Homo sapiens: one gene and its partners. The protein of the gene in region 1 purifies or fractionates together with the protein of each later gene. This does not show direct contact. Each region holds a gene or a part of one and is shown in the gene's direction. Other genes may lie near its edges. The genes, in order: MAGEA10, FAM216A, ERI1, PKN1, YEATS2, CCDC106 and PHF8.

What was found.
Region 2: the proteins of MAGEA10 (region 1) and FAM216A purify together in Homo sapiens (affinity purification with mass spectrometry; 5 studies listed by BioGRID and IntAct, with this or other methods). This does not show direct contact.
Region 3: the proteins of MAGEA10 (region 1) and ERI1 purify together in Homo sapiens (affinity purification with mass spectrometry; 4 studies listed by BioGRID and IntAct, with this or other methods). This does not show direct contact.
Region 4: the proteins of MAGEA10 (region 1) and PKN1 purify together in Homo sapiens (affinity purification with mass spectrometry; 4 studies listed by BioGRID and IntAct, with this or other methods). This does not show direct contact.
Region 5: the proteins of MAGEA10 (region 1) and YEATS2 purify together in Homo sapiens (affinity purification with mass spectrometry; 4 studies listed by BioGRID and IntAct, with this or other methods). This does not show direct contact.
Region 6: the proteins of MAGEA10 (region 1) and CCDC106 purify together in Homo sapiens (affinity purification with mass spectrometry; 4 studies listed by BioGRID and IntAct, with this or other methods). This does not show direct contact.
Region 7: the proteins of MAGEA10 (region 1) and PHF8 purify together in Homo sapiens (affinity purification with mass spectrometry; 4 studies listed by BioGRID and IntAct, with this or other methods). This does not show direct contact.

The regions. Positions count from the first base shown.
Region 1 is NC_000023.11:152,135,778-152,139,797, reverse strand, and holds the start of MAGEA10 (melanoma-associated antigen 10), read left to right. Parts: upstream 1-1,220; 5' UTR 1,221-1,323; intron 1,324-2,828; 5' UTR 2,829-2,927; intron 2,928-3,717; exon of another isoform or gene 3,718-3,808; intron 3,809-3,963; 5' UTR 3,964-4,020. UniProt on the Homo sapiens protein: Not known, though may play a role in embryonal development and tumor transformation or aspects of tumor progression.
Region 2 is NC_000012.12:110,478,845-110,482,344, forward strand, and holds part of FAM216A (protein FAM216A), read left to right. Parts: intron 1-3,500.
Region 3 is NC_000008.11:9,001,573-9,005,696, forward strand, and holds the start of ERI1 (3'-5' exoribonuclease 1), read left to right. Parts: upstream 1-1,324; 5' UTR 1,325-1,491; coding exon 1,492-1,599; exon of another isoform or gene 1,600-1,758; intron 1,759-2,501; exon of another isoform or gene 2,502-2,724; intron 2,725-4,124. UniProt on the Homo sapiens protein: RNA exonuclease that binds to the 3'-end of histone mRNAs and degrades them, suggesting that it plays an essential role in histone mRNA decay after replication.
Region 4 is NC_000019.10:14,460,806-14,464,305, forward strand, and holds part of PKN1 (serine/threonine-protein kinase N1), read left to right. Parts: intron 1-2,861; coding exon 2,862-2,937; intron 2,938-3,022; coding exon 3,023-3,164; intron 3,165-3,254; coding exon 3,255-3,348; intron 3,349-3,500. UniProt on the Homo sapiens protein: PKC-related serine/threonine-protein kinase involved in various processes such as regulation of the intermediate filaments of the actin cytoskeleton, cell migration, tumor cell invasion and transcription regulation.
Region 5 is NC_000003.12:183,809,297-183,812,796, forward strand, and holds the end of YEATS2 (YEATS domain-containing protein 2), read left to right. Parts: intron 1-722; exon of another isoform or gene 723-1,155; intron 1,156-1,178; coding exon 1,179-1,287; 3' UTR 1,288-3,328; downstream 3,329-3,500. UniProt on the Homo sapiens protein: Chromatin reader component of the ATAC complex, a complex with histone acetyltransferase activity on histones H3 and H4. YEATS2 specifically recognizes and binds histone H3 crotonylated at 'Lys-27' (H3K27cr).
Region 6 is NC_000019.10:55,646,823-55,651,011, forward strand, and holds the start of CCDC106 (coiled-coil domain-containing protein 106), read left to right. Parts: upstream 1-1,389; 5' UTR 1,390-2,224; coding exon 2,225-2,255; intron 2,256-2,382; coding exon 2,383-2,487; intron 2,488-2,585; coding exon 2,586-2,762; intron 2,763-4,189. UniProt on the Homo sapiens protein: Promotes the degradation of p53/TP53 protein and inhibits its transactivity.
Region 7 is NC_000023.11:54,013,474-54,016,973, reverse strand, and holds part of PHF8 (histone lysine demethylase PHF8), read left to right. Parts: intron 1-237; coding exon 238-379; intron 380-2,410; coding exon 2,411-2,597; intron 2,598-3,500. UniProt on the Homo sapiens protein: Histone lysine demethylase with selectivity for the di- and monomethyl states that plays a key role cell cycle progression, rDNA transcription and brain development.

The DNA.
Region 1 (4,020 bases):
TATTGCACAATCTGAGGCAACACTTCATACCACGATGCCAGTAGCCCAGTAGCTCTGGAGTGATATCAGGACAGCAGGAAAGACGGGGTTGATTGAGGGAGTATGACTCCGGAGTCTATGCTGCTAACCACCTAAAACCACCACAGTGACGACTGGTCTTAGTTGATCCTCTGCTACAAGTTAATAATTCTTTATATTAAATTTTCTTGCTCAGAAAAAAAGAGAAAAATTATTATAATAGAATATAAAGAATAGACCAGAAATAGAATAAGCAGTGAACCACACAGCGTAAGGTAGGTATTCTTTCATGAAATGTTATATATGTATTCAATATACACTTGGCAGACATTTAAAACACATATTTTTACTAGGAATGAGGGTTAGAAAACCAGACATCACTGCATTGGACTATAAAATATCAGCTAAACTCAAAACAGCAGGACCTCTCCACACCCCGATGCTCAGCCTCTTTCTTGTAGAAAATATACCCTTTAGGACAAAAAGTTTGCCAAGTCTACTTGTGGCTTGGGAAGAGCCCCGTTGGGAAGGTGTGCGTCTTCTCCCATAGGTCATTACAATCACGGGTGTTGCAGCTCCCCAGGGACCATCTGGCCTGGGAACCGCACCCATGCTCTGCAAGGGATGCAGCTGGGCAAATGATCAGAGGTGACGGAAACTGAGCATCTCCCACCCATCACTTCATCAAAGAGACAAAAGCCAGGAGGAAGACCCTCCTGAGTGAGGACCGAGGGTCCACCCACCCCTCACAAAGGGGCCACAGAATCCAGCTGAGCCCCTCTTGTCAGCCCTGGAAGACCCTGGCAATGTTGTCACCCCTACCACAACCCTCCCCTCACTGCCACCTTGGAAGACTCCGAGTCAAGAGACCTGGTTTAAGGGGAGAAGACATCCTCAGCACAAAACAGGGGTCCAGGCTTTTCCAGGCATCAAGGTCGAGACACTGAGGGATGACTGAAAGACCCCACCCCCACCCCCACCACGACCCACAGCCCCAAGATCCCCATCCCAGTTCCCACCTCCACGCCCCTCCCCACACTCATCTTCACCACCACCCCTGCCCCAACCCCATCCTCACCCGTACCCCACCCCACCCGGACTCCCACCCTCACTCCCACCCCAACTCCCACCCCAGTTCCGGCAGAATCCACTCCGCCCCTGCTGTCAACCCAGGGAAGCCCCGGGGACCGGATGTGACGCCACTAACTTACGCCTCGGGGATCAGAGAGAAGCGAGGTTCTCGTTCTGAGGGACAGGCTTGAGATCGGCTGAAGAGAGCGGGCCCAGGCTCTGTGAGGAGGCAAGGTGAGAGGCTGAGGGAGGACTGAGGACGCCCCCAACCCAGATAGAAAGCCCTAAATAATACAGCGCTGCCTCTGCTGCCAGCTCTGGACCACCTGAGGGCAGACTTCTCAGGCTGGGCTGTCACCCCCCCCCCACCCCCGCCCCCACTCTCTCCCGCCGCTTAAGCCGCAGGGGACTCTGGGAGTCAGAGCTTGGTGTGACCAGGGCCCGGCTGGTTCGGCGGGAGCCGCGCCTAGGTTCTGCCAGCATCAATGTCGGGACGCTCAGGGAGGGCTCTGCCCCTGATGTCGGCCCTGGGAAGCCCTGGTCATGGCGACCAGGAACGCAAATTCTGACGTCGGCATCTGAGGCTGACGTAGGGAAGGGGATATTGGTACCAAGAATGCGGCTTCAGGGGAGCAGAGGGAAGGCCCGGGCCCTGCTGGGAAATGAGGGAGGCATGAAGGGATCCCAGGACAGGGTGCCCACCCCACCTCTGTCTCAGACCGAGATGTCTCTTCACTCGGCCTGAGGAATCCAAGGGACGGTGACTCAGGTCTGCGGCGGGGCGTGGTAGAGGAGAACAACCCAGCCAAGAGTCAAGGGGAGGAAGAAGAGAAAGGACTCAAGGGACCTTGGAGTCCAGATCAGTGGGGACCTCAGCCCTGGGTGGTTTCAGGCACGGTGGCCCATGTGATGTGTCTTTGCTGTGCCTTTGGGGTGTCAATGAGGAGAGGGCTATGGTCTGAGGAGTGGAGCCTCAGGTCAGCAGAGGGAGGAGTCCCAGAGCCCTGAGGGAGGACTCAGCAGATCCCCGCATCTCAGAACTAGGAAATCTGTCCCTCTTATCAGCTCTGGAACCCCAGGCAGGACGGTGAGGAAGAGAAGTGGCCCCCACTTTCTCACCGGGGATCCCAGGGAGATGGTGGCTTTGGCGTGCAAGACCCATACACGATTCAGCAGGAGGGAAAGGGCTGGGCCCTGTCGGGAGTAAATCTGAATACCTGGAGGACACCCAAATAAAGGAAGTCCCCGTCTTGTCCCCCTCCCCTGCCCACCACCCCCCCCCCCCCCCCCGCCAAATGTCTGCTCCTTCTGTCAGCTTTGGGAATCCCATGCAGGTGTGATCGTGTGGTGCCCCTCCCCACTTCTGCCTGCCGGGTCTCAGGGAGGTGAGGACCTTGGTCTGAGGGTTGCTAAGAAGTTATTACAGGGTTCCACACTTGGTCAACAGAGGGAGGAGTCCCAGAATCTGCAGGACCCAAGGGGTGCCCCCTTAGTGAGGACTGGAGGTACCTGCAGCCCAGAAAGAAGGGATGTCACAGAGTCTGGCTGTCCCCTGTTCTTAGCTCTGAGGGGACCTGATCAGGATTGGCACTAAGTGGCAAGCTCAATTTTACCACAGGCAGGAAGATGAGGAACCCTCAGGGAAATGGAGTTTTGGTGTAAAGGGGAGATATCAGCCCTGGACACCCCACAGGGATGACAGGATGTGGCTCCTTCTTACTTTTGTTTTGGAATCTCAGGGAGGTGAGAACCTTGCTCTCAGAGGGTGACTCAAGTCAACACAGGGAACCCCTCTTTTCTACAGACACAGTGGGTCGCAGGATCTGACAAGAGTCCAGGTAAGGAACCTGAGGGAAATCTGAGGGTACCCCCAGCCCATAACACAGATGGGGTCCCCACAGAAATCTGCCATGACCCTACTGTCACTCTGGAGAACCCAGTCAGGGCTGTCCGCTGAGTCTCCCTGTCTTATACAAGGATCACTGGTCTCTGGGAGGGAGAGGTGTTGGTCTAAGGGAGCTGCACTCGGGTCAGCAGAGGGAGGGTCCCAGACCCTGCCAGGAGTCAAGGTGAGGACTGAGGGGACACCATTCTCCAAACGCACAGGACTCAGCCCCACCCTACCCCTTCTGTCAGCCACGGGAATTCATGGGGAACTGGGGGTAGATGGACTCCCCTCACTTCCTCTTTCCATGTCTCCTGGAGGTAGGACCTTGGTTTAAGGAAGTGGCCTCAGATCAACAAAGGGAGGGTCCCAGGTCGTATCAGGCATCAAGAAGAGGACCAAGCAGGCTCCTCACCCCAGTACACATGGACCCAGCTGAATATGGCCACCTCTTGCTGTCTTTTCTGGGAGGACCTCTGCAGTTGTGGCCAGATGTGGGTCCCCTCATGTCTTCTATTTCGTATCAGGGATGTAAGCTTTTGATCTGAGAGTTTCTTAGACCAGCAAAGGAGCAGGGTCTAGGCTTTTCCAGGAGAAAGGTGAGAGCCCCACGTGAGCACAGAGGCTCCCCACCCCAGGGTAGTGGGGAACTCACAGAGTCCAGCCCACCCTCCTGACAACACTGGGAGGCTGGGGCTGTGCTTGCAGCCTGAACCCTGAGGGCCCCTCAATTCCTCTTTCAGGAGCTCCAGGGACTGTGAGGTGAGGCCTTGGTCTAAGGCAGTGTTTTCAGGTCACAGAGCAGAAAGGGCCCAGACAGTGCCAGGAGTCAAGGTGAGGTGCATGCCCTGAATGTGTACCAAGGGCCCCACCTGCTCCAGGACAAAGTGGACCCCACTGCATCAGCTCCACCTACCCTACTGTCAGTCCTGGAGCCTTGGCCTCTGCCGGCTGCATCCTGAGGAGCCATCTCTCACTTCCTTCTTCAGGTTCTCAGGGGACAGGGAGAGCAAGAGGTCAAGAGCTGTGGGACACCACAGAGCAGC
Region 2 (3,500 bases), on another chromosome or scaffold:
TTGTTATGGCAGCAAAATGAAACTAACATAGAGCCCCTTTTTAAAAAATTGTATATATTTAAGGCCGGGCGCGGTGGCTCACGTCTGTAATCCCAGCACTTTGGGAGGCCGAGGCGGGTGGATCACGAGGTTAAGAGATCGAGACCATCCTGGCTAACACGGTGAAACCCCCGTCTCTACTAAAAATACAAAAAATTAGCCGGGCGTCGTGGCTGGCGCCTGTAGTCCCAGCTACTCGGGAGGCTGAGGCAGGAGAATGGCGTGAACCTGGGAGGCGGAGCTTGCAGTGAGCCTGGGCAACAGAGCGAGACTCTGTCTCAAAAAAAAAAAAAAATTATATATTTAAAGTAGAGAAGAGTACGTAGAAACCAAGATCTGGGTGCTAGGTGTGCTTATTTATAATATACTTTCATTGCTTCTAGACTTTCTCCGAGGACAGTGCTGGGAAAGAAATGTGTGTGCATTTACCTGTGAGCACATACATACCCATACATATCTATTTCAATATTTCTACTAACTCCAAATTCCAATCCAACAAACAGGGTTTATTCTGTGCTTTCCTCTTTCCATATTAATAGGTAACTCGTCTCCAAAAGTGTGAGACCTGCTTATTAACTACAATATATTATTTGCTTCGTCCTAAGATGTATAAAAAAGTAGTTTCTAAAGTGCTAACACATGCTTCTGAAAAAAAAAAAAAAGAAGCCTAGTAGGCTGGGCGCAGTGGCTCACGCCTGTAATTCCAGCACTTTGGAAGGCTGAGGTAGGTGGATCACGAGGTCAGGAGATTGAGACCATTCTGGCCAACATGATGAAACCCCGTCTCTACTAAAAATACAAAAAATTAGCTGGGCATGGTGGCGCGTGTCTGTAATCCCAGCTACTTGGGAGACTGAGGCAGGAGAATCACTTGAACCAGGGAGTTGGAGGTTGCAGTGAGCAGAGATCGCGCCACTGCACTCCAGCCTGGCGACAGAGCAAGGCTCCATCTAAAAAAAAACCCAAAAAAAACAAAAAACAAAACAACAAAAAAAAGCCTAGTAGTTAATTAGAGATCAGTATTTGCTTAGAGTTGTTTTTGTTTGAGGGCATATAGTCCAAGCAGTATATTCAAAAGTTCTTGGGTTGGTTAACTATTTATTTGTGGTAAAATATACATAATATAAAATTTACTATTTTAATCTTTTTTTTTTTCTTTGAGATGGAGTTTCGCTCTTGTTGCCCAGGCTGGAGTGCAATGGCTCGATCTCGGCTCACTGCAACCGCTGCCTCCTGAGTTCAAGCGATTCTCCTGCCTCAGCCTCCTGAGTAGCTGGGATTACAGGTGCACCCCCACCACGCCTAGCTAATTTTTTTTTTTTTTTTTTTTTTTTTTTTGAGATGGAGTCTCACTCTGTTGCCCAGTCCGGAGTGCAGTGGCACGATCTTGGCTCACTGCAAGCTCCACCTCCCGGGTTCACGCCATTCTCCTGCCTCAGCCTCCTGAGTAGCTGGGACTACAGGCGCCTGCCACCATGCTTGGCTAATTTTTTTATATTTTTCTAGAGACGGGGTTTCACCATGTTAGCCAGGATGGTCTCGATCTCCTGACCTCGTGATCCGCCCGCCTCGGCCTCCCAAAGTGCTGGGATTAAAGGTGTGAGCCACCACGCCCAGCCTAAGGGTTTCACCATGTAGGCCAGGCTGGTCTCAAACTCCTGGACTCAAGTGATCTGCCCGCCTCAGCCTCCCAAAGTGCTGGGATGTATAGGCATGAGCCAATGCACCTGGCCCATTTTAATCATTTTTAAGTGTACATTTCAGTGGCATTAAGTATATTCACACTGTTGTGCAACCACTACCACCATCCATTTCCAGAAAGTTTTCATCTTCCCAAACTAAAACTCCGTACCTATAAAACACTAACTCTCAGGTGGGTGCAGTGGCTCGTGTGTGTAATCCCAGCACTTTGGGAGGCTAGGGCTGGAGGATCGCTGGAGCCCAGGAGTTTGAGACCAGCCTGGGCAACATAAAATTAACTTTAGTTTTTTTTGTCTCTAAAAGAAAATTTAAAAACAAAATAAAAAACCACTAATTCCCTATATACCTCCTTTCCCCTGACCTCTTGCAACCTCCATTCTTTCACTCCGTATATATTTGATTTTCCTAGGTATCTCATAAAAGTTAAATCATACAATATTTGTCCTTTGTGACTGGCTTATTTCACTTAGCATGTCTTCAGGGTTCATCCATATTGTACCATGTGTCTGAATTCTCTTATTTTTTTAAAGCTAAATAATATTCCATTGTTTGTATATACCACATTTTGTTTATATATTCACCTGTTGATGGATACTTGGGTTTCTTCCACTTTTTGGCTATTATGAAGTAATGCTGCTATGAGCATGGATAAATAATCTGTTTGAGTCCCTGCTTTCAGTTCTTTTGGAATTGCTGGATCAGAAGTGGAATTATTAGATTATATGGCAATTCTATGTTTAAATGTTCGAGGCACTGCCATACTATTTTTCTTTTTCTTTTGAGTCAGTCTCACTCTGTCACCCAGGCTGGAGTGCAGTTGCAGTAACTCAGCTCACTGCAACCTCTGCCTGCCAGGTTCAAGTGATTCTTCTGCCTCAGCCTCCCAAGTAGCTGGGATTACAGGGGTGTGACACCATGCCTGGCTAAGTATTTTGTGTGTGTGGTTTTTTTTTTTTTTTAGTAGAGACGGGTTTCACCATGTTGCCCAGGCTTGGTCTCGACTCCCAACCTCAGGTGATCTGCCTGCCTCAGCCTCCCAAGGTACTGGGGTTATACAGGCATGAGCCACCATGCCCAGCCTATTTATTTTTAAGTGCTTCATTTTCTGTAAAGAAATGTTATCAAGCTATTGAGAAATTAAGTGTTGGTCCAAAATATAATATGCATCTCAGAAATATTGTTTATTAAGGACACAATTCATATTCTTATATAAATAGCCTCTGTTTACAACTTGAAAAAGGATTTCCAAAACAAAAAACTTTTAAAAATCTTAAATTGGCATTCATATTATTACAGATTATAAGTTATGTTTCAAGGGTCATAATACAATTTCCAAATGATTTTCCATTTCTTGGTCAACTAGTTAGTCCTTACCTGTAGTATCCAACTTGCCAAAATCTTGAAGAAATAACTAAATTTAAAGTTTAATACAAAACTGAAATAGCCTGTTATTAATAATATTGAAACAAAAATGTGCTTATTGAATTCAACTAACTATATACTTTTTTTTTTTTTGAGACAGAGTCTCACTCTGTCACCCAGGCTGGAGTGCAGTGTTGCGATCTCGGCTCACTGCAACCTCCACCTCCTGGGTTCAAGAGATTCTCCTGCCTCAGCCTCCTGAGTAGCTGGGACTACAGGTGTACGCCACCACACCTGGCTAACTTTTATATATTTTTAGTAGAGACAGGGTTTTGCCATGTTGGCCAGGCTGGTCTCCTGACCTCAAGTGATCTGCCCGCCTCAGCCTCCCAAAGTGC
Region 3 (4,124 bases), on another chromosome or scaffold:
ACAAAATCAGATGAGCTAGTTTATCCAAGATCAGGTGAGTCAGTTTATCAATCTGGGAGGTGCCAGCTGATCCATCAAGTGCAGGGCCTGCAAAATATCTCAAGCACTGATCTTAGATTTTACAATAGTGATATTATCCCCAGGAGCAATTTGGAGAGGGTTAGAATCTTGTAGCCTTCAGCTGCATGAGTCCTAAATCATAATTTCTAATCTTTCGGCTAATTTACTAGTCCTACAAAAGCAGTCTAGTCTCAAGAAGAGGGTTTATTTTGAGAAAGGGCTATCACCTTTGTTTTAAACTATAAGCTATACACTAAGTTCCTCCCAGTGTTAGTTTGGCCTACGCCTAGGAATGAATAAGGATAGCCTGGAGGTTAAAAGCAAGATGGAGTTGGTTAGGTCTGATCTCTTTCACTGTCTCAATGATAATTTTGCAATGGCAGTTTCACATCTGAGGTTTCTATTGCGTGTTCCATGGTATTCAATAATCTCTTCACTCTGGTTGCTGGGAGCTCAAATGATTCCCAGTTCTGTGTGACCTCTCACCATTGTTTGGTGTACTGCTCCCCAGTAATTGTTCTTTCCTGGCCTTGTGGAGTTTCACGTTTTTTATTCAGTTAAAGATTCAAGGTACTCCTAAGCAGATTTCTGAAGCTCTTTTTCCATGTAATTCCCTCCTCTCCAGAATTCTGCCCTACAAATTCCAACCGACTTGGCCTACCCCAATTTCGTCAACTCCAATCTCTGTCTTTTCAACCCAGGAGATCCTAGGTTTCCATATGATTTCCTTTCATCGCACCACAGACTGGAAATCGCCTCTGGGCAAAAGGGCAGGATGATATACGGCTCCTTTTATTTCTTTTCTCTCAGGTAAAACAGTCCACAGCTGTCCGTTGTCCAATGTCTGAATAGGTGTCTCCTATATTTTGTTCCGTTTTCTAATTGTTTATAGTGGGACACTAAGTCCCGACCCATTTTCTTTTCTTGCCCAGAGTGGAAGTTTTAGGAAACTCCTTATGGAAAATGTGAATTGTTTTATTATTTTTTATGGTCGAAAACATCTTTCTCTATGATATCTTCCCACTCACCCTACTTTTTTCCTTCTCAGGAAACACTGACGGGAACACACGTGCCGGTGCTACCCTCCAGTGACTGGACTAGATCCTTGCGCAACTTCAACCCGCGCTAGCTCCGCCTACGGCCGGCCACGCCCCGTCTTCTCACCGGCGCGCCTCCCTCTTGTTCGTCCTCCCTCCCCCTGTGGACTGCGGCGCTGGCGTTCCGCGCACGCCGGCTCACTGCGCCTGCCCGGCGTGTGGACGCCACACGCTCCCGGAAGTGGGAGGTGGCCGCTGGAGTTTGTGTGGCCGCCGCCGCGGGAACGCGAGCCCGGTAATTTTTCAACGGAGAAAGGCGAGGCTTTCGGGCTCTGCAGAGTGAGAGTTAGCAAGTGTCCGGCTCCAGCAACTCTCCTCTGGCGTGACAGCCGGCATGGAGGATCCACAGAGTAAAGAGCCTGCCGGCGAGGCCGTGGCTCTCGCGCTGCTGGAGTCGCCGCGGCCGGAGGGCGGGGAGGAGCCGCCGCGTCCCAGTCCCGAGGTGAGGAGTCGACCCGCGCCTGGCTGTTGGCGCCAGCTGCCCCGTCCCCAAAGCGCCCTCGGCACCCCTTTCTTCTCAGGTGTCCCGCAGAAGGTGCAGCTGTGCGCCCTTGGACCCCAGCCTCTTCCTCGGTGCCCAGCTCCCTGGCTTTATCCTCGGGTGGGTGTCTTGGAGCCCCCTCAGGGCCGAATCACTCTCTGGGAGGGAGGAAATCGTCAAGACCAGTTCTGTCTACAGTGGGTTAACAGGTTCTAAGAGGGAGTTTTGCTTTAAACTTAATTCTGTGTTCACGGTTGCTGTTGTCACTCCATGTAGCCGTTATGGGTAGTTTGCAAGGCTTTATGTTTTTAAAATCTCACCATATACGCTAGGTATGTCACTTCATGCCTGTTTTTAAAAAAAGAAAAAATTTAAAAAGCACTCACCAGCATCCCTGTCTCTGTACCTGTTAAGTGGAGCTTCGTCTTAGCTGCTTTTGCTCATTAACTGGTGTCTCATATAACCATAGTATAAGATTGAATGAATCATTTTGACATCTCATCGGTTGAACTTAGTTACAGTGGCAAAGTTGTAGAACAGTCTTAAAACTTATTTAACGAATGTTAATTGTTGACTAGCGCTGCGGATTGTAAGTGATTGAATACTAAAATTGATCTTTTCCTAATAATAAACATGTTGAACACTTCGTAAAGCTTCATAAAGTGCGTATTTGCAAGAGGCCTCCTAACTCTTGCTCCTTCCGTCCACAGTCAGTTTCCATCTGGCAGCTAGAATGAGCTTTTCAATAACATGAATTTGGCTTATTCCCCTCCTGAGTCACTTCCATTTGCTGCTCTGCGGGGTCGGGTGCCTGCCTCCCTTGGTAATTGCATCTCACACAGTTTTTTCCCTTTTGTTCCCAGTGCCCCTCGCTGCCTTGTGTTCTTTGACATTGGAAAGAAGGTCTCGTTAAGGATCTCTGTATGTTCCTTTTGCCCTGTGTGCACTTCCTTTGGATCCTTGCAATTATCTTTCTCCTTCTAAGGTTGTTATTTCAAAGAGTACTTGCACATCCCTTCTCTTGTAAAGAACCACTCTTCCACCTGCCTCCCTCTTCAGCCTGAGATACGTTGTCAATCTCATCCTGTAAGTGGGTTTTAAAATAAATTTCGAAGTTTATTTTTAGTAAAAGAAGTGTGTTTGAATATGCTTCTTTATATTTGAAAGTCTTGACACTTTTACAGCTACTTAAGGCCTAGGTCTCTGTTCCAAATTGGCTTTAGTGACGGTAGTAATTGTTAAAAACTTACTGTTGCATGCTCTTTATAGTGATACTTTTTTTTTTTTTTTTTTTTTTTTTTACAAAAAGCCGGTCGTAGTTGCCCTCTCCCGTAGTCCCAGCTACTGGGGAGGCTCAGTGGGGAGGATCACCTGAGCCCATGGGTGGAGGCTGCAGTGAGCTGTGATCGTGCCACTGCACTCCAACCTGGGTGACAGAGTGAGACCCTGTCTCAAAAAATAATAGTAATGATACTTTTTTTTTTTTTTTTTTGGAGACGGAGTTTCGTTCTTGTTGCCCAGTCTGGAGTGCAATGGCATGGTCTCAGCTTACTGCAACCTCCCGCCTCCCGGATTCAAGTGATTCTCGTGCCTCAGCCTCCCTAGTAGCTGGGATTACAGGAACCCACCACCACGCTTGGCTAGTTTTTGTATTTTTAGTAGAGATGGGGTTTCACCATGTTGGCCATGCTGGTCTGGAACTCCTGACCTCAGGTGATCCGCCCACCTCGGCCTCCCAAAGTGCTGGGATTACAGGCAATGAGCCACTGCGCCTGGCCATGATACAGTGTTTTTCAATCTGGGCCAAAGTTTTTTGTTGAATTCAGGTGGTAAATTTCCATTATCTCTAATGCTAGTTGTCTTTGTAAACTAGTAGAAGCTATTGCATATTTATATTTTTAATAAGTAGGTTCAGATTTCATCAGAACTCTCCTTTTGGAAGAACGTCAATCAAGAAAAATTCTAAGTTTTTTTTCAGTGTGCAGATGCAGAGGTTTTCCTTTTCTTTTTTTAAAAGGTAGTACCTAGATTTTTGGCAGCAGAATAATAGCATTTCCAGAACATGTTTTCAAAATGTTCTCTATACAGAAAAAGTTTTATTTGACAAGCAGTTACTTTGTAGCTTACTGTTAAAATGTGTTTTCTTTTTTCTTGCAACAACAGATTGTGTTCCTTTAAAAAAATGCTAAAAATCAAGCTCCGGTACCCTTCCCAATAAGAAGAGGACAGCAATTATAGAATACCTGTCTTTTTGTAAAAGAAAATTTGTAACTCATCTTTAAGTTCAACAACAGTTTTTTTATGTTTTTTTTTTTTTTTTTTGAGAGGGAGTCTCTCTCTGTTGCCCAGGCTGGAGTGCAGCGGCTCAGTCTCGGCTCGCTGCAAGCTCCGCCTCACGGGTTCACGCCATTCTCCTGCCTCAGCCTCCTGAGTAGCTGGGACTACAGGCGCCCGCCCGGCTAATTTTTTGTATTTTTAGTAGAGAC
Region 4 (3,500 bases), on another chromosome or scaffold:
CTATATATTATCTATCAACCAATCTATTTTTCCATGCATCCGTCTCTATTATCTGTCAGTCATCTTATCCATCAATCTTATGTATGCATCATCCATCCATCTATCCATCCCTGTATATTTCTCTGTATATATATCTACCCATTCCTCTCTCTATCTCTATCTATCCCTCTCTATATCTATCTGTGCCTCTGTTTTTCTCTATATAGCTATATCTATCTATCCATCCATCTATATTATCTATCAACTAATCTATCTTTCCGTCTACCCATCTGTCTATATTATCTATCCATCTATATTATCTATCTATCATCTTATCCATCCATCCATTTATCTTATCTATGCTCATCCCTCCATCCATCCATCTCTGTATATTCCTCTATCTCTATTTATATCCACCCATTCCTGTCTCTGTCTCTATCTATCCCTCTCTGTATCTATCTGTGTCTCTCTCTCTTTTTCTCTCGATAGCTGTATCTATCTATCCATCCATCTATCCATGCATCCTTCTCTTTCTATGAATCCCTTTCTCTATCAGTCCCTCTCTCTTTCTCTATCTGTAACTACCCTTCCGTCCATGCCCCTCTCTATCTACCTGCGTCTATATCTGTCTCTTTCTGTGTCTATTTATCCATCTCTCTATATCCATATCCCTAAGCAGAGGTTCTCCCCTGGTCTGACCATCAAGCACCAGTGAAAGAAAGGGGCGGGGCCAGGCACAGTGGCTCACACCTGTAATCCCAGCACTTTGGGAGGCTGAGGCGGGCAGATCACTAAGTCAGGAGTTCGAGACTAGCCTGGTCAACATGGTGAAACCCCGTCTCTACTGAAAATAGAAAAATTAGCCGGGTGTGGTAGCAGGCGCCTGTAATCCCAGCTACGCGGGAGGCTGAGGCAGGAGAATCAGTTGAACCTGGGAGATGAAGGTTGCAGTGAGCCGAGATCGCATCATTGCACTCCAGCCTGGGCAACAACAGCGAAACTCTGTCTCAAAAAAAAAAAAAAGAAAGAAAGAAAGGGGCGTGGAGAAGAGCTGACTCCAGATGGCAGAGGTTTAAAATTGTTCTCCCATTCAGAACACAGCCCAAACCAAATGGAAAGTGATGGTGGGTGGCCTGGGGGACACATTCTAAAGCGTTTCTCCTTGCCTTCAAGGTCTCTCTGTGGCATTCTATTTTGTTTTTATGCCTATACAGAAGCATTCTTCCATAGAACTTTTCTGCAGCTCTGGCCGGGCGCTGTGGCTCACGCCTGTAATCCCAATACTTCGGGAGGCTGAGGCGGATGGATCATTTGAGGTCAGGAGTTTGAGACCAGCCTGGCCAACATGGTGAAACCCTGTCTTTACTAAAAATACAAAAATTCGGCTGGGTGCGGTGGCTCACGCCTGTCATCCCAGCACTTTGGGAGGGTAGGCAGGCAGATCACCTGAGGTCAGGAGTTCAAGACCAGCCTGGCCAACGTGGAAAAACCTAGTCTCTACTAAAAATACAAAAATCAGCCAGGTGTGGTGGCGCACGCCTGTAATCCCAGTTACTTGGGAGGCTGAGGCAGGAGAATCACTTGAACCTGGGAGGCGGAGGTTGTAGTGAGCCAAGATCGCACCACTGTACTCCAGCCTGGGCAACAGAGTGAGACTGTGTCTCAAAAAAAAAAAAAAAGAAATTAGCCGGGCTTGGTGGTGGGTGCCTGTAATCCCAGCTGCTCGGGAGACTGAGGCAGGAGAATCTCTAGAGCCTGGGAGGTGGAGGTTGTGGTGAGCCCAGATTGCGCCACTGCACTCCAGCCTGGGCAACAGAGTCTCAAAGAAAAAAGGAACTTTCTGCAGCTCTGTTGTCGATGCACCCACAGTAGCTGAGTTCTGTTGTAGATGGAAATGTTCTCTATCTGAAGTGTGACCAGTGTGACCAGGGAACCAAAGTTTTAATTTCGCTGACATTTTCACTAATTTAAATCGCCACATGTGACAACCATACCAGACACTGCAGTTCTGTGACTTCAGCACCTTCTAGAAGTTGTATTGGAGTTGGGAGAATTCAACTTGACAGGTGGCTTCCATAGATGGGTGGGCACCAGCATTGCCTGGGGGCTTGTTGAAATACTGAGTGCTTTAGGGCCGGGCACGGTGGCTCGCGCCTGTAATCCCAGCACTTTGGGAGGCCAAAGTGGGCAGATCGCTTGAGCCCAGGAGTTCAGGACCAGCCTGGCCAACATGGTGAAACTCCGTCTCTACAAAAATACAACAATTTGCCAGGCATGGGGGTGCGTGCCTGTAGTCCCAGCTACTCAGGAGGCTGAGGTGGGAGGATCTCTTGAGCCCGGGAGGTGGAGGCTGCAGTGAGCCGAGATCGGACTACTCATATGTGCATATATATATGTGTGTATATATATATATGTGTGTGTGTATATATATATATATATAGAGAGAGAGAGAGAGCATGCGCGCGCTTCCTCCACTCCATGTTTCTGGCTCAGTAGGTCAAACCTGCGTTTCTAGAAAGTTCCCAGGTGTTGCTGCTACTGCAGGTCTGGGGTCTGGGAGCACATGTGGGGAATGGGGTGTGGGATGGCGTGGCGTCCGTTTGCAGTCGCTGTCTGTCAGTCTTGTTGGGTCAGATGCTCTCCCCACCTCTAGAAAGGGACCCGGTTGTTTGCTTCTTGCTTTTCCAAGACGTCCCTTCAGGAGGGGAGCCATGGGTTGCACCGATGACCTCTTCATTGTCACCTGGTACTCGGGTTGAATCTGATGCCACGTGACCAGAACCCCACTTGGGCGCGCACACCTGTGCTCCCAGGGGCTTCCTTACCAAGCTGTCTGCCTGCAGGTGGGCAGAGGGTCCTCACATTTTGGTCCCTTCCCCCAGGTCACCTTCCGCAACCCTGTCATTGAGAGGATTCCTCGGCTCCGACGGCAGAAGAAAATTTTCTCCAAGCAGCAAGGTGAGAGGGTGCTCCAGGCTTCCTGGGGGAGAGGCCAGGGGTCCTGGGAGTGTCATGGAGGGTGACGCCTGCCCCGTCCCCCCAGGGAAGGCGTTCCAGCGTGCTAGGCAGATGAACATCGATGTCGCCACGTGGGTGCGGCTGCTCCGGAGGCTCATCCCCAATGCCACGGGCACAGGCACCTTTAGCCCTGGGGCTTCTCCAGGATCCGAGGCCCGGACCACGGGGTAAGGAAGGAGGGCCCCATGGTCCCGGCTGCCCCTTGAAGCCTGCGAGGGTCCTGGGTCCCAGACACACCCTCCTCTCGTCTGCTGCAGTGACATATCGGTGGAGAAGCTGAACCTCGGCACTGACTCGGACAGCTCACCTCAGAAGAGCTCGCGGGATCCTCCTTCCAGCCCATCGAGCCTGGTGAGGGTCCCCCCTTCTATCCCCGTAGGCCTGGCCTGGGCAGCGTCAGGGGTCCTGCTCCAGGCTCAGAGACCACTAGGAACTTCCCTGGAGCCACGCAGCATGTCTGTGGCAGAACCAGGGCCCAGATCTCTATGCTGGTTAAAACGTGT
Region 5 (3,500 bases), on another chromosome or scaffold:
TAGAGCCAGATGAGCTCAAGGGTCTGCTTTGTCATTTTTAGAGAACCTCATGGTTGTGAAAGCTCACTCAGCTTTGCTCAGAGGTTTATATCCTCCTCATTACTTCACAGACACCTAGGACTCTGTTTTATTACAGGGTTGAATAAATATTAGCTTTGCAATTAAAGATAACAGTGTCCATTACATGTCAGACACGAGGGCCAAGCGTTGCATATATTACCTAATTTGTTTTTCATTGCAGAACTATTATTCTCTTTTTAAAAATCAGGAAACCGGGCTTTGAAAGGTAATTTTACCCAGCTTACCCAGCAAATACAGTGTAGACCTGGACTTCCGACTCAGGTCTCATTGGCTCTGAGGCCCCTGGGCTCGCCACTGCTCTTTGCTGACTCGTTGTCTTTGATTAAGACACTGAGTTTCAGTCTGTTCCTAGGCCCTGAAAGGATGGTAGATAGGCCACATCTGCTTTTCTTTCGGAGGAAACAAATATTATTTTATTGCATTATGCTAAAGGCTGTCACAGATTTATAAAATTGTAGCAAAGTGCCTGAGGACATGAAGGGCCTAAATCAGAGGAATAGTAGATGAAACTTCACAGGAATATATCAGACAACATAGGCGTCTTTAGAGAAAAGGAAGGGGAACCAAGAGTTCCGGTCCTGCTGCCCACTGTCCTGCTTGGACCCACAAGTGAGCCAGGGCCTCCTGTGGCCCCTGCTTACCTCTGTGCTCCCTGTCCTGGAGGGGTAGAGTGACTTAGGTGCTTTTGATGGAACGATTAACATCACGCCTGGCCTGGCGTGGCTCCGTCTCCCGTCTTTCTAGGAGATGGGAAATAAGGTCCCAGAGTTTTGTGGTGCTTTGACTCAGCTTTCGGTCTGCTGAGACTCACTCACAAATGTGTCATTCCGTTCTGCCATCCGCTTTGTTTTCTTTCTCTTTTCTCAGTTCTCAGAATCTTTTTTCCTAATTATTCAACCAACTTGTTGACATCCTTCTCATGCCTATGACAGGAAGGCAGTCCTCACCCCAGAGTGGCCCTAAGCTATGTCTGTGGCTCAGGAGCCCTCTCCACGGGGCCTCTGCCTGGGATGGTCCCTGTGATGAGTTAAGTGAATAAATGATGAGATATACGTGAGAGAATTTCACCTGGTAACACCCTTTGTTTTTTGGACCAGGATTCCCAAAGAAATTACAGTGAGTAATATTCACCAGGCCATTTGCAACATTCCTTTTCTGGACTTCCTCACAAACAAACACATGGGAATATTGAATGAGGACCAGTGAGCGGAGTGAGGTGCCCTGGAGAAGCAGGCTTTGAAGGCACAGCGAAGCTGTAACTGAGGACCCTGCTGCTCGGGAAGGAGGTGGTTTCCAGTGTGACTCGGCATGTCATGGCTACCCAACCTTTGCCGCTGCCTGTTCCCACGTGTCACCAGCACGCTGCACTCCAGATGAAATCCTCCTAGGACAGGAGTTTGTTTCCTGAGTGTGGAGTGAGGCTGTCAGTGGATCCGTGCTTTGTCGGCCAGCGTTTCTGCAGTCTTTGTAAAGGCCCCACGAGAGCGGGCCAGGCCGTGTGCCTCAGGCCCTTCTCCCTGGGTGTGCTTAAGGGGGCTCCTTGGGCCCGCCTCCCCAGGAGGTAGAAAATGAGTGGCAGGCTAGAGATTTCACCCATTTTGTGGGCTGGAGTTACCAGTAGCTCCAGCAGTTACCCTGAAGAGAGATTGGGCTTCAGCCTTCAGCAGGTGGTTCTCTCCCATGCCTGGCCTTGGTGTGGAGGGGCTGTACTCTGAGCCCAAGTGAGTCAGCTATAGGAAGAGGCCATACCTAGAGCCAAGAACCATGAAGGCCTGAGAGACGGCAGACTGAGCAGAATTCCTTTTTTGAGCACGAGAGCATTACTAGAACCATTGTCAAAGCAGTGGCAAGGGACGGAGAGGTCCCAACAGGAGTCAGGAAGAGGTTTGATTATAACCAAGAAAACTCACTATGCTAGGAATAGACTGTGTGCACCAGTCCCAGACACTTGGCAGAAGTGTAGCAGCGTTACACATGTGTGCGAAGCAGATCGCAGGTTCCACGCCATCTGCATGGCCTGCAGGAGCTTCTGCTGCTGACCCCATGCTGAGTGGCCAGTGGGGAGCGGCGCCCGGCAGGCTCTTCTGGGGTCGTCTGTCCTATCCGTGGATTGTATATACTCTTCTCTGTTAAGGAGTTTTTCCCAAGAAGAAAAGTATTTAAAAGAAATACCAGTGAGTGCCTTAAAGTTGGAGAAGTAACTGCCCATGCCCAGAAATAAGGATGCCAGTGCCCAGAAGCAGTGAGATTAGTCTGTGTCCACAAGCAGAGGCCCCCTCGATGGGAGGGAGTGGCAGGCAGGAGAAGGTGGCGCTGCCAGGTGCCCGGGTCTATTGGAGGCGCCCCATCTCAGACTTCCTAACACAGCCTGTGTGGAAGGCAGAACAAAGAATGCATGCCCAGTCAGAAATCTGTTCTATTCTGCTCCAGGAAAATCGGAAACCTGTGAGTCAGAGTCAGAGAAACTTACCCAAGCAACGTAATTCCTGTTTTCATGGGTCCTGTAGATGTTTGAGTCAGGAAGGTAAGGCGGGGAGTGACTGAATAAACTCTGCCTTTTAAATTGAGCATCTGGGCCGGGCATGGTGGCTCACGCCTGTAATCCCAGCACTCTGGGAGGTCGAGGTGGGTGGGTCACCTGAGGTTGGGAGTTCGAGACCAGCCCGACCAACATGGTGAAACCCCGTCTCTACTAAAAATACAGAAAATTAGCTGGGCATGGTGGTGTGTGCCTGTAATTCCAGCTACTCGGGAGGCTGAGGCAGGAAGAATCACTTGAACCCAGGAGGCGGAGGTTGCAGTGTGCCAAGATCATACCACTGCACTCCAGCCCTGGTGACAGAGGAGACCCCGTCTCAAAAATTGATTGATCAATTCAGCATCTGAGGGCTGCAAGTACAGAAGGAATCTATTCTCAGCAGGGCATAGGGCACGCACTGGCTTAACAGTTTAGTATATAAGGCTCAAATAGTCTATACCTGAACTGCTATAAGCAAGGTCGATAGGGAAGTGGATAGATTGCTTCAGCAAAGTGAACTGTGAGATCTCCAGGACAGAGGGAGAAAGATCTGATCCAAATGAGAACAGATTGGTTATTGCAGGTATCACAGCCTAAAGAAATTATCTTTTTGCAAAAGAAATATTAAATGATTTAGCAGTCTCCACGTGTGTTAATGTTTCAAACGTGTATCATAATGTGTATAATTGTGTAACAAAATTGTCTACAATAAATCTTTTGGTATTTGTGGTGGGTGTTTCTGAGTTTGAAGCATGGTACTCAGGCAGGGTTCTCCCTGCACTGGGATGAGGTGATGGTGTAGAGTCTTATTGATATGTTTAAATTAATTCCTCTACTTCTTGCCAAAAAAAAAAAAATGTTGCAACCGTATAAGATAAAGGATTACAGTTACATAAAAGTC
Region 6 (4,189 bases), on another chromosome or scaffold:
TACTATTTGAGACGGAGTCTCGCTGTGTCGCCCAGGCTGGAGCGTGGTGCGATCTCGGCTCACTGCAACCTCCACCTCCCCGGTTTAAGCGATTCTCCTGCCTCAGCCTCCTGAGTAGCTGGGATTACAGGTGTGCACCACCACGCCCGGCTAAATATTTTTTTAAACTGCTGATTTCATCCTATTCTATTGAATTCTCCACCCATGAACCTGTAGTTTGGAAAAGACCAATCTAGGGCAGATGGCTCCCCCTGGAATTTTTGGACCAGGCTGCAGTTAATCTGTAAAGTGGGGAGGGGAGGATCATGGTCACAGCTTTGCAGGCGGTGCAGACATTTAGATTCTCCCTCCATCGGGTTAAGACCTTGCTCTTATAAGGGCTGGCCACAGTCCAGAGCTTGGATGCTTCTGGTGAACAGGAGAGGCAGGTGGAGCTGAGCCTGAAGCTTAATAAACATCTGCTTATTCATTCATTTTTCTTGCCTATTTTGTGCCAGGCACTGTGCTAGGCCTCATTTGCTCTTCCGACCTGTTTTTTTGGGAGGAAGAACAAATCTTCCGTTCATACTCCCCAGAGTGGGAAAGAGCCTCCCAGAGGCTGCCATCATACCCCACCATCTGACCTCAAATAATACCAGCAGCGCTCCTCTCTTCAGCCCTGACGATGGCCAGGTGCTGGGCTGAGCTTCTGTGTGTCGCATCACTGCATCCTCACAATAAATTTAGAAGGGCTTGTAATTTCCCCATTTTGCAGGTGAGTTAACAGGCTGGGGAGGAGCAGGAACAGTCAGGACTGGAATCTAGCTTTGCTCCAAAGCCAGCTCTTAATTACCAACATGGGGATGGGGGTGGCGTGTTCCTGGCCCTCATTTTCCGGGAGAGGGGTAACTCCCCCGATTTTGGCCCCCACATCCCTGAGAACCTTGGGGTCTGGCTGTAGGAGGTAGGGGAGCTCTGAGGGGTCCGCGCTGGCTAGTTCCTGAGAGAGCGTTAAAAGTAGATTCTCCTTTCGCTCCAACTTTCTCGGTGTCTCAAACACTCTCCTGCCTTCTGGGCCCATTGGGCACACCGCCACCCAATCCGGGGACCCCCGGAGACTCGCCAGCTCTCCAGGATGGGAATTTCGTGATGTTCCCTGCCTGAGCTTCGGGGAGGGCGGGGGAGTGCTGTAAGGGGCTATCGCGCAAGTGCAGACCCTCTGCTTCTGCCGCAAACGGCGGGCCTCACCTGGACCCGGGGACTCTTCAACGAGGGGCGCTAGCCTGGCCCGACTGGGCGAGTCCCCGCGTCCCTGCCCGTTCCGTCGCTCAGTTCCACGACACGCTCCCCTGCCGCCCCGCCTGTTCGCGGGTGGGTGGGCGCTTCCCTCGGCTCCCCGTGACACTTTGCAGACGCTCCCCGGCGCCGGGCATGGGCGCCGCCGCCGTCGGTCCCCGAGCCGGATTCCGCGAGCGGGTGGGTGAGCGCGGGGGGCCTCGGCCCCTCGGACCCCGGGCACCCGCGGGCGGGGGATGGTGGCCGCGTTTGCACCCCCGCCCTAGTGCATGTTCCCGCTGGAATCGTTCCACGACCGCTCCCCCTCCCACCCGCGGGACAAAGGGCGGGGGCGGGGGGGGCGCACCCCCACGCGTGACCTTTCCCCGTACTGCGCACGCGCCCAGCCCCCACCACCGGGGGACGGTCCGCCCGCCCACGCGAGTGCGGGGGAGGGGTGTGGGGGCCCCGAAGGTAGAGGAGGCAGCGCGCACGGGCTGGACCTCCTCCTACCCTGGGAAGTTGGGGCAGTTTCCCCCTGCACCTGCCTCTTCCTTAGGCCTGGCAGTGGCCCGCGATGAGAGAGGGTCCTTCCCCTTCAGGCTAGGTGTCCCTGGTCAGGCGACCCCTTGGGGCACCCAGCAATTTAGGGCTTCAGCTTCCTTTTCCTTCGATACCCAGGAGCCCACGTCCCCAGCTCACTTCTCCCCCAGGACCTAGGCGGCTGGGCCCCCTGCCCCTGACTCCAGGAGCCCAGGAGTTTGAAGCCCAGGCGCGTTTTGCCTCAGTCCTGGGGTCCAGGCTCCCTCCTCCCTCAGACCAGGGGTCCAGGCCAGAAGGTCCCTCCTGTCTCACTTCACCTCCCCCAGGATGGACCCTCCAGTCCATCTGCGTCTCTCCATTTGTGGCTGCCGTTTCTGTCCAGTGCCCCTGAGGCCCTCGGCTGCTGGGGTCCGTAGGAAGCCGCGCCATGAATGACCGGAGCAGTCGGAGGCGGACAAGTGAGGAAGCTGGGTCCCCTTCCCTACCCTGGGTCCCAGTGCGGTCGGCTCCAGGCTGCCGTGGTTGGGGGGTGGCCTGAGAGGCCCGGGGAATTCTCTGGGGTAACCCGGGGCCTCTCCTCTCCAGTGAAGGACGATGAGACCTTCGAGATCTCCATTCCCTTCGATGAGGCACCCCACCTAGACCCACAGATCTTTTACAGTCTGAGCCCCTCTCGGAGAAACTTCGAGGGTGAGCTGAGGGGGTGTGGAGGGACTGGAGTCAGCTGGGAAGCCAAGCCCTGAGTCCCAGGGTGTGACCTGGTCCCCCCACCCTCGCTGTGTCCCTAGAGCCTCCGGAGGCTGCGTCCTCCGCCCTGGCTCTGATGAACAGCGTCAAGACCCAGCTGCACATGGCTCTGGAGAGGAACTCCTGGCTGCAGAAGCGCATCGAGGACCTGGAGGAAGAGAGGGACTTCCTGCGGTGCCAGCTGGACAAATTCATCTCTTCTGCTCGGATGGAGGCAGGTGTGTGTGGGGTGCTCTGATCCACATGCCTCCCTGTCCCGCTACTGGGTACCCGCTCACCCAGACTCAAGGCTCCACTGTTTGGCTGGCTGGGTGGGACCTGCCATGTTGGCCCTATCTGCTAGTCCCCTGCCTGTTTTGGGCCCCCAGGCCCAGCTGCCTCCTCACTTGATTCCAGGGCCTCATCCCCATGAACTGTCTACTGGGGCCCGTCCTCCTGCCTTCTCCGTCAGCTCCCCAAATCCCATCAGCCTCCAGTGCCCTGCCATCTGCTTCCTTGGCCCATGGTGACTTCAGGGACCCTGGCACCTGAGAGCCCCTCTCTTCTGACTCCTAGGGGGACCTTCCTTCATCTCTTTGGCCAAGAGGCCCACCCTAGTTCTTTGGGTTTCCTCAGGGGGCCCCTGCTCCTCCTCCCGTCCCTGTCTTCTCCAAGATCCAAGAGTCCAGCCATCCGGCCTCCTCCTGTCCCCCCCTCCCCTCTGTGACACCAGGGGCCATCTTCCCACCCACCCTGTCCCATCCTTGGTTAATGAGCACTCCTTCCCCATCAAAGACATTAAGTCCCTTCCTTTGTGGGCCTTTTTGGGTGGTGACCCCAGCAGGTGCTGTCCCTCAAACCCTGCCTGATTCCTGGGCAGTCCCCACCCACATACCTTGCTCTGCTATAATTCATGGCCAGAAGCAGCCCAGATAGCTCCCACAGCAGCACCCAGCCCCAGCCAGTTCACAGCTAGCGTCTTCTCTTGACTGGTGGGACCCTGTGCCCTGTTTAATACATTTTGGACCCCAGCCCCATCCTCTTCCCCGGATGGTCAGGCCGTTTGCCCGACAGCCCATGGCCTGGAGAACCCACACTCTACCCCACCTACCCTCATCTCAGCCTTGCTAGCTCCTTGGCTGGGAAGACCCCTCAAAAGCTCCCACATCTCTCTTTGTGAATTCAACCCTTTCCCCAAAAATCCTAGGCAAGGGGGCTATGGTCTTGTGGTGTCTCTGTTACTGGAAGCCCAGCATCTGGGGATCTGGCTTTCCCTCTGCTCGGGAACAAACCACCTCTGGCTGCCCTTGGGCCTGCCACTGTCTCCTCTCACTGATGGTTCCATCCTGGGTGACTGACTCCTTTGCACAGACAGTTTGGCCCTGCGGCTTCGGCACTTTCCCAGTGGGGACCCTGGCACCAGAGCCCTCCCCTAACCCGCCTTCTAGAGGAATCTGTGTCTGGGCCTCCGCCTGCCGGCTCCCTCTGTCTAGATGGAGGTGGGACCCAGCCTGCTGGACCCAGGGCCCCTGATTTCTCTCGGTCTGACCCCCCGACTCCAGCCAAGGCCTTGCCTGCCTCCTGGGTTTCCAGAGGCTACTCTCCAGAGGTCCCGCCCAGTCCCCAGAAATTTCTCCCTCCCCTATGGGAACCGCGCATAGTCACA
Region 7 (3,500 bases), about 98 Mb from region 1:
GACTACTATGTGTGAGGCTGTGTGTCTGGTAGTTCCATTGCCCTAGCAGGGCACATAGATCTAAGGAAAGTGCGATGGGTTCCTTCCCCTGCCCCCCAAACAAACACACACATATATGTACAGTGTCAGTGGAGAGAAGCTTTGAGTGTAAGGCCATTCTAGGGACTGATGAGGGGACAAGAGAGTCTTCCACAGTCCCTGAGACTACTTGGTGCAGAACCTATCTCTTTACTCCAGGTTCTGACAAAGAGATTGATGTGATTGATGTGACCCGCCAGGCTGACTGCAAGATGAAGCTTGGTGATTTTGTGAAATACTATTACAGCGGGAAGAGGGAGAAAGTCCTCAATGTCATTAGTTTGGAATTCTCTGATACCAGGTAAGAGGTGCAGGAATAACAAAAAAACCTGACAAAGTGCCTGAAACTTGTGTGATATATCTAGTGTATATTCGTGTTTCTCTCTCTTTTTTTTTTTTTTTGAGACAGAGTCTTGCTCTGTCGCCCAGGCTGGAGTACAGTGGCACGATCTTGGCTCACTGCAACCTCCGCCTCTTGGGTTCAAGCAATTCTCCTGCCTCAGCCTCCTGAGTAGCTAGGATTACAGGCGCCCGCCACCATGCCTGGCTAATTTTTGTATGTTTAGTAGAGATGGGGTTTCACCATGTTGGCCAGGCTGGTCTCGAACTCCCTACCTCAGGTGATCTGCCCGCCTTGGCCTCCCAAAGTACTAGGATTACAGGCATGAGCCACCGCACCTTGCCTCGTGTTCCTTTCTCTTCTTCCTGGTGGTTTCTTCCTTTGGGATGGCGAGCTGGGTTATATTTTCTAGGGTAGCTGCTCACGTTGTAACAGTTGAGTCATATTTCTCCTCCACAGTTTCTAGCATTGGATAGATTACATAGTAGCTATTTTAATTAATTTTTGTCTCCTTTTTCAAGACCTTAGGACACCCTTCTTTGACCTTTTCCTCCTATATACAACAGTGCCACAGTCACTGTGTAACTGGTGGGATAGGTCCTCAGTTCCTGGAAATAGATTTACTAAAATTACCCCCATGTAGGTTTCTTACATTTAAAAAGAAAAAGAGAAACCTATTTACCTTTAAATGATTCTATCTGGACTCACACACACAGTAGATACGTATATAGTCTTCTCTTTGGGTCAGAAATGTGGGAAATACCAAGAAATCATAATGTATCTTTTTGCCCTTAGGAAACTTACTGTCTGATTATTTACATTTTTAACTTTTAATTTGTAGATTGATAGGAAGTTGCAAAAAAGTGTACAGGGAGGTCCTGTGTACTCTTTAGCCACTTTCCCTCAATGGTAACGTATTATGTAATTACGGTACAATATTAAGACCCTTGCTGTTGTGTTTTTTTTTTTTTTTTTTTTTTGAGACGGAGTTTCGCTCTGTCACCCAGGCTGGAGTGCAGTGGCATGATCTCGGCTCACTGCAAGCTCCGCCTCCCTGGTTCACGCCATTCTCCTGCCTCAGCCTCCCGAGTAGCTGGGACCACAGGCACCTGCGACCACACCCGGCTAATTTTTTATGTTTTTAGTAGAGACGGGGTTTCACTGTGTTAGCCAGGATGGTCTCGATCTCCTGACCTCGTGATCCACCCACCTCGGCCTCCCAAAGCGCTGGGATTACAGGTGTGAGCCACCGCGCCCGGCGCTGTTGTTTTTAAGATGCAAGGTTAAACAACCTGAGAGTGTTTAAAAACTGTATTTGTTTGTTTATACTTCACTTCATCCTGAAAGACTATTCAAGGTAGCTTACAGAGATGTGGAGAAGCCAAAAAAAAAAGAGAGAAAACTAGAACAAAAGTGAAATAAGATTGGGAAATAGAATGCATGTGGTGGGTGCTCAGCACATTTCCCGGTTGGTGGAAATGGACTATAGAGTTTTCAGTGAATTTCCTGAAGGTCAGAACAAAGAGAGGAGTGCAGTATTGTAAGATTTGTGGCTTTACGTAGGATAAAAGCAACAGATGTTTCAGAGAAACATTTCTTTACCTGGAACTGAGCCCTGTGAGGTTGCTCTAGTGGTTTCTCATAAAGAAGACACTATGAGATGGGGATAGTGCAATAACTTCTATAATCCACATGCCAAGTGAGTAGTCTGGAGTGGGGCTGGGGAGTATGAGCATTTAGTGGAGGAAATGAACACCTTTGACTGGAGAAGCCTGTGGAGCTTGGACTTGGGACTTCTGGAGATGAGTAGAATGAGGATACTGACCAGACTTACAGAACAGAAATAAGTGTCCTATGTGCCTTTGGGGATTCTGTGGAGGGAACTTGTTCTCTGACTTATCTGACCCTCACTGAACTGTGGGGTATTTTATTCAGGCCTCAATCTTCTCTTCCTAATCAGCTGACATCTGCTCTCCACCCCTTCCTTGGTAGACTTTCTAACCTTGTGGAGACACCGAAGATTGTTCGAAAGCTGTCATGGGTCGAAAACTTGTGGCCAGAGGAATGTGTCTTTGAGAGACCCAATGTACAGAAGTACTGCCTCATGAGTGTGCGAGATAGCTATACAGACTTTCACATTGACTTTGGTGGCACCTCTGTCTGGTACCATGTACTCAAGGTAGGAATGCGCATGGCTTCTGGAGGCAGCCAGGCCTTGGGCCTCCCTGTACGTGTCACATGGCAGCACAGAAACATTTTGAATCAGTTTGATTTACATTTTGAATAAAAAAAATTTGATTTGGCCGGGCGCGGTGGCTCACGCCTGTAATCCCAGCACTTTGGGAGGCCGAGGCGGGCGGATCACGAGGTCAGGAGATTGAGACCATCCTGGCTAACACGGTGAAACCCCATCTCTACTAAAAATAAAAAAAATTAGCCGGGCTTGGTGGCAGGCGCCTGTAGTCCCAGCTACTTGGGAGGCTGAGGCAGGAGAATGGCATGAACCTGGGAGGTGGAGCTTTCAGTGAGCCGAGATTGTGCCACTGCACTCCAGCCTGGGCGACAGAACGAGATTCCATCTTAAAAAAAAAAATTGATTCAAAAATGTTTGACGAATCAAACGTTTTTGAATAATAGCAGATGCCTGAGGTTTTCCTGGTTGTTACCTTCTTTTTTGTTGTTGTTGAGGCAGAGTAAAAACAAAGATTTTATTTATTTATTTGAGATGGAGTTTTGCTCTGTCACCTAAGATGACAGTTGCCAGTGCTGGACTGCAGTGGCGTGATCTCAGCTCACTGCAACCTCTGCCTCCCGGGTTCAGGCGATTCTTCTGCCTCAGCCTCCCAAGTAGCTAGGATTATAAGCGCCCACCACCACGCCTAGCTAATTTTTGTATTTTTAGTAGAGACGGGGTTTCACCATGTTGGCCAGGCTGGTCTCGAACGCCTGACCTGAAGTGATCTGCTTGCCTCCACCTCCCAAAGTGTTGGGATTACAGTCGTGAGCCACTGCACCCAGCCGTTCTTACCTTCTTAATTGAACCAGTTTATACTCATATCAGCATGTATGGAAATGTCCACAT